Linked DNA regions of Homo sapiens. The protein of the gene in region 1 interacts with the protein of each later gene in a pairwise test. Each region holds a gene or a part of one and is shown in the gene's direction. Other genes may lie near its edges.

The links.
Region 2: the proteins of RBM3 (region 1) and MYPOP interact in binary tests that used the Homo sapiens proteins (3 or more experiments, as listed by UniProt).

Annotation. Positions count from the first base shown.
Region 1 is NC_000023.11:48,578,966-48,581,694, forward strand, and holds the end of RBM3 (RNA-binding protein 3), read left to right. Parts: 3' UTR 1-2,197; downstream 2,198-2,729. UniProt on the Homo sapiens protein: Cold-inducible mRNA binding protein that enhances global protein synthesis at both physiological and mild hypothermic temperatures. Reduces the relative abundance of microRNAs, when overexpressed.
Region 2 is NC_000019.10:45,895,886-45,899,638, reverse strand, and holds part of MYPOP (myb-related transcription factor, partner of profilin), read left to right. Parts: intron 1-3,753. UniProt on the Homo sapiens protein: Transcriptional repressor; DNA-binding protein that specifically recognizes the core sequence 5'-YAAC[GT]G-3'. Dimerization with PFN1 reduces its DNA-binding capacity.

The DNA of each region.
Region 1 (2,729 bases):
CAGCCTTATGCCATTTTACATTTTCTGTGGAGGGTTAGGTTAATTGGCATATAAAGCCACTGAGAAGAGTTGGCAAAGCTCTCAGTCACGGGGATTTGATCTTTTTTGGTGTGTGTGTGTCTTGGGTGGTAAAGTGGTAATTTTGTAATTCTAGCTGGTCTTAGTTCCTCAGTTCTGCTCCCTTTAGTCATGGTTCTTTCTAGTGGCTGTATTGAGGCCCCATGGGTGTTATCCCTCCATTGGTTCTAGTTTGGAACAGAAAAATCTGTTGTATTCATGGCTTTCACCTGGCTAATACTGAGCTAAGTTACCACCAGGTTGCAAACTCCAGGACATTATTGTCCTGAGCTGCCTATTCCCTTGCTGGTGCGTTGTGGAACCCTGTATTATTAGTTCCAGTCCTGGAGGCCTGCCTCCTGAGTTTCCCAGCTAGTTGGGACAGGCCCCAATATCCCTTCTTCCTGTAACCCAAACAGTCATGAATTTGCTTTGGCAGGTGGATGGAGACTTGGGAACTTCCACCTCACCCACTAAGCCAGGCCCAGGCTATGGGGCATTGTGGCTAACCCCACCAGGTGGATACTTGGTCTGAGGACGCATCTTATTCTGGGCCTTTAGGGAGCTAAGGCAGTGAGAATTGGCAGGAGGACTGCTGTGAATGCCTTGTAGGTCGGGGGATTGGAGGGGGTCCTCTGCTCCCTGTCTCTCAGGATGGCAATGTACCTCTCACCCCCAGTGTCAGCTGAGGTAGGATCCATAATCAGTAATATTCCTGCAACAAAATGTTCCTAAGTGGAATCAATGAAGACCAAAATTTATTTGTATAACAACTCTAAACCTGCTCTGCTCTGCTGTGTTTACAATGTGCTTTGTGATCATCCAGCCCAGGGAGTCCCAGTCTCTGGCTGTCTATCTGCTCTAAGGAAGAGAGCCCACAGTTCTCTATAGTGCCATAGTCTGTGATGAATAAAGTTCCAGATTTGAGGTCAACCCCCGACCACCCTTAAAGTGCTTGTTGGTCTCCTACTTTGGTTTGTCTTCAGCATCCAACTGATGCACATTTGTCAAGAACCCACTGAGGCTAGAAACCCCCCAAACACTCAAGGTACCTTGAGAACATGTATCCCAAGACCTGCAAAGACCAAACACATGGCCTGTAACTACTTTTCACTTTCAAGCCCTGGAACTTGTCTGTACCAAAAATCTTTCTGAACCATTCACCAAATCTCTTGTCAAGGGCCAGAATAAATTAAGAGATTGGCTTTTGGTTTTCAATTAGGCTTTCAAGTCCTAAGCCCAACCCCTCCTATCCCACCTAGGCAGAAATCACTTCAGATCCTTGCTTCCTAGTTTAATTTCTTCTCTGCCTCAGTTATAACATCCATAAAATGGAAATAATAATACCCACCTCACACAGGGGTTAGGAGTGTTTTTTTGTTGGTTTTTTTCCAGACAGGGTCTCACTCTGTCTCCCAGGCTGGAGTGCAGTGGCACAATCTCGGCTCACTGTACCCTCCGCCTCCCAGGTTCAAGCAGTTCTCATGCCTCAGCCTCCCAAGTAGCTGGGATTACAGGTGCCTGCCACCACGCCCGGCTAATTTTTGTATTAATAGAGACAGGGTTTCACCGTGTTGGGCAGGCTGGTCCTGAACTCCTGACCTCAAGTGATCCACCCGCCTCGGCCTCCCAAAGTGCTGGGATTACAGGCGTGAGCCACCACACCTGGCCTAGGAGTTAAGAGTATTAAATGTTAAGAACAGACCAAGTCCATCAAACAGCTCCACACCCTTGTTCCATGTTCTGGATTGGGGAGTTGTGGGGGTGGAGGTGTAGAACTTTTAAAAAGCTTCTTAAAATAAGTTGCTGTGAATACTTCAGGTATATAAAAAAACATTGGTTGACAATAAGCCAGTGTTCTGCCATTCTTACCTGCTTATCAAGACAAAACCTGCTCAAGTCCCTGCCCAGCTGCATTCCAAGTGTTTTCAAGTTTGGTGGTAAGACCTGACCTGAGGCTTCTTATAACCTTTACTCAGTGGGAATATGCATACAGTTCACTACAGAAATATTTGTATTTACTTAGAGGAAGTGCCCTGGATCTGGGGGCGGGGGGGGGCGGGGGGAATGGGTCTTTTCTAAATTGTTAAAAGCAGTTCATGCCATTATTCTTAATAAACATTTCTAATATGCTGTGAAAGAGTATATTCGTTTTTTTAATGCATATATCCATTTACTCATTGTTCCCATGAAAGAGCCTTGTATGCAAACCTCCAAATGCCGAAGGAGCCAAGAAACAAGGCAGACAAAAATTGTTAGTAAAGGGTTCTTTACTGGGGGGACTTAGAAGCATGACGTGGGGACGGGCGCAGTGGCTCACACCTGTCATCCCAACACTTTGGGAAGCCGAGGTGGGTGGATCACCTGATGTCAGGAGTTTGAGACCAGCCTGGCCAACATGATGAAACCCCGTCTCTACTAAATACAAAAATTAATCGAGTGTAGTGGCGCACACCAAGTAATCCCAGCTTCTTGGGAGGCTGAGGCACAAGAATGGCTTGAACCCGGGAGGTGGAGATTGCAGTGAGCCCAGATCGTGCCACTGCACTCCAGCCTGAGCGACAGAGCACAACTGTCTCAAAAATAAGCATGGCCTTGGGTGGCAGCAAGATAACCATGCTGTTGCTCTTCAACCCACGGCTTACATACCATAGGGAAAGAGTGTGCTCAAG
Region 2 (3,753 bases), on another chromosome or scaffold:
GGAACTCCCGACCTCAGGTGATCCACCCACCTCGGCCTCCCAAAGTGCTGGGATTACAGGCCTGAGCCACCACGCCCGGCCTGGACTTGCTCTTGAGGGCATTCAGGAGGCATGAAAATCTCCTAAGCAGGAAGGTGACACAATCACATGGGACCCTTGTTCTCAAACCTTGAATCAAACCTCAGTGTTTCCATCTGTGAGATGGCCCCATAGGACCAGAGCAGAGATGGCCAACTTATTTTTTCAGAAACTTGTTACCACTTCATTCACTCGTTTAGCAAATATATATTGAGAACCTCATCCAAGGCAGACGCTGTGGTAGGTGCAGGGAATAATGTAGAGAAAAAGACAAAATCCCCTTCCCTTATGGAACCGACATTCTTTTTTTGTTTGCTTGTTTGTTTGTTTGTTTGAGACTGAGTTTTGCTCTTATTGCCCAGGCTAGAGTGAAATGGCGCAATCTCGGCTCACCGCAACCTCCGCCTCCCAGGTTCAAGCAATTCTCCTGCCTCATCCTCCCGAGTAGCCGAGATTACAGGCATGCGCCACCATGCCTGGCTAATTTTGTATTTTTAGTAGAGATGGGGTTTCTCCATGTTGGTCAGGCTGGTCTCGAACTCCCGACCTCAGGTGATCTGCCCGCCTTGGCCACCCAAAGTGCTGGGATTACAGGCGTGAGCCACCACACCCGACCTGGAGCTGACATTCTATGTAGTTGGAGGAAACAGACCACAAAGAAGTCCCAAAACAGACTGTATACCAGGAGGTGGTGAGAACTAAGAGGATAAATAAGTCATATTCAGAGGATGGTGAGTCATGGAAGGGGGCTATACAGACAGGGTAATCAGGGAGGGCTTCTCTGAGAAGGTGAAATTCAAGTAGAGATGGGAATAGAGTAGGCCTGACAGACATCTGGGAGAAGGGCACTCCTGCTAGACTAGAGGAAACAGCACGTGCAAAAGCTCTGAGGCAGGAACACGCGTAGAGCATCCTCGATTAGAATCTTACACAGGCCTGGCCAGGCACGGTGGCTCACGCCTGTAATACTAGTTCTTTGGGAGGCTGAGGCAGGTGGCTTACCTGAGGTCGGGAGTTCGAGACCAGCCTGACCAACATGGAGAAACCCCGTCTCTACTAAAAATACAAAATTAGCCACGCGTGGTGGCGCATGCCTGTAATCCCAGCTACTCAGGAAGGCTGAGGCAGGAGAATCGCTTGAACCCGGGAGGCAGAGGTTGCAGTGAGCCATGATCGCGCCATTGCACTTCAGCCTGGGCAACAAGAGCAAAACTCAGTCTCAAAAAAAAACAAAAAAAAGAACCATACACAGGCCTGGCATGGTGGCTCACGCCTGAAATCCCAGCACTCTGTGTAGTACCAGCTCACACACTCATTTACAAGTAGGGAAACTGAGGGCCAGCTGCGGTGGCTCATGCCTGTAATCCCAGCACTTTGGGAGGCCAAGGCGGGCGGATCACCTGAGGTTAGGAGTTCAAGACCAGTCTGGCCAACATGGCGAAACCCCGTCTCTACTAAAAAATACAAAAATTAGCTGGACGTGGTGGCACACGCCTGTAGTCCCAGGTACTCAGGAGGCTGAGGCTGGAGAATCACTTGAACCTGGGAGGTGGAGGTTGCAGTGAGTCGAGATTGTGCCACTGCACTCCAGCCTGGGTGACAGAGCGAGACTCCGTCTTAAAAAAAAAAAAAAAGAAAAGAAAACAAGTAGGGAAACTGAGATCCAAAGTTTGCAAATAAATATGATTTTAACTTTTAAACAGTGGAAGCCAGGCACAGAGGCATGCCTGTAATCCCAGCACTTTGGGAGGCTGAGGTGGGAGGATTGCTTGATCCCAGGAGGGCAAGACCAGCCTGGGCAACAAAGTGAGACCCCATCTCTACAAAATAATCCAAAAATTAGCCAGGCATGGTGGCCGGCGCCTTGGTCCCAGCTACACATGAGGTTGAGGCATGAGGATCCCTTGAACCTGGGAGGCGGAGGTTGCAGTGAGCCATGATCGCACCACTACACTCCAACCTGGGCAACACAGTGAGACCCTTCCTCAAAACAACCAAAAACAAACTCTTGCAGGGGCACTGCTGTGACTCCTGTGAGCCTTGTGGGCATGAAGGCTGGGCTACTTTCTGTTCCTTTTTACTCAGTAGACTGGAAAAGCCACGTTTCTGCAATTCCCACGTTCCTTATAAGGAAGATTTGTCACTCACACCCCAGGCCCACAGCCCTTGCCCAAGGAATGGTTAGGAGCATGGACTCTGGCCTGGTGTGGTGGCTCACACCTGTAATCCCAGCACTCTGGGAGGCCGAGGTACACGGATCCCTTGAGGCCAGGAGTTTGAGACCAGCCTGGCCAATGTGGTGAAACCTTGTCTCTACTAAAAATACAAAAATTAGCCAGGCATGGTGGCATATGCCTATAATTCCAGCTCCTCGGGAGGCTGAGGCAGGAGAATTGCTTGCACTGGGAGGTAGAAATTGCAGGAAACTGAGATTACGCCATTGCACTCCAGCCTGGGTGATGGAGTGAGCCTCTATCTCAAAAAAAAAAAAAGGCCATGGACTCTGGCCAGGAGCAGTGGCTCACACCGGTAATCCCAGCACTTTAGAAGGCCAAGGCGGGAGGATCATTTGAGGCCAGGAGTTTGAGACCAGCCTGGGCAATATAGCGAGGCTCCCATCTCTATAAAACAAAAGAGGCCGGGCGCGGTGGCTCACGCCTGTAATCCCAGCACTTTGGGAGGCCGAGGCGGGTGGATCATGAGGTCAGGAGATCGAGACCATCCTGGCTAACAAGGTGAAACCCCGTCTCTACTAAAAATACAAAAAATTAGCCGGGCGCAGTGGCGGGCGCCTGTAGTCCCAGCTACTCGGGAGGCTGAGGCAGGAGAATGGCGTGAACCCGGGAAGCGGAGCTTGCAGTGAGCCGAGATTGCGCCACTGCAGTCCGCAGTCCGGCCTGGGCGACAGAGCGAGACTCCGTCTCAAAAAAAAAAAAAAAAAAGAATGGACTCTGGAGTCAACCTGGGTTCAAATCCCTTTTCTGCATATCACTCTATGACACCTCTCTCTGAGCCTCAAATCACCTCATCTATAAAATGGGGCGATGATCATGGTAGCACCTACCCCAGAGAATGGCTGGGAAGACTAGGTGGAATCACTTAAGAGGGGAGCTTAGCCCAGGGCCTGGCGGGAGCAGGTGTCCTGTCACTGTCCGCTCTACTCATCTGTCTCCCAGCCTCCCTACCTCCTGCTGGTGGCTGGCCCAGGGAGGCTGGACTCCCAGCAGTCAGGGTAGGAGGTGGCTGATTTGTTTGCTTGCTTGTTTGTTTTTGAGACAGGTTCTTGCTGTCGCCCAAGCTGGAGTGCAGTGGTGTGATCTTGGGTCACTGCAACCTCGGCCTCCAGGGTTCAAGCGATTCTTGTGCCTCAGCCTCCCAAGTAGCTGGGATCACAGGCGTGCACCACCACACCCGGCTAATTTTTGTATTTTGAGTAGAGACAGGATTTCACCATGTTGGCCAGGCTGGTCTCAAACTCCTGACCTCAGGTGATCCGCCTGCCTGGGCCTCTCAAAGTGCTGGGATTACCGGCTGAGCCACCGCACCCGGCCTGGATGGTTGGTTTTTTGTTTTTGTTATTTTTTTTTTCTCTATCTTCTCTCTTTCTTTGGCTGGCTGTTTTTGAGAGAAGAGCAGGGTGATCTGATTTGGCCAAGGAGCAGGAGGCCAGCTTCC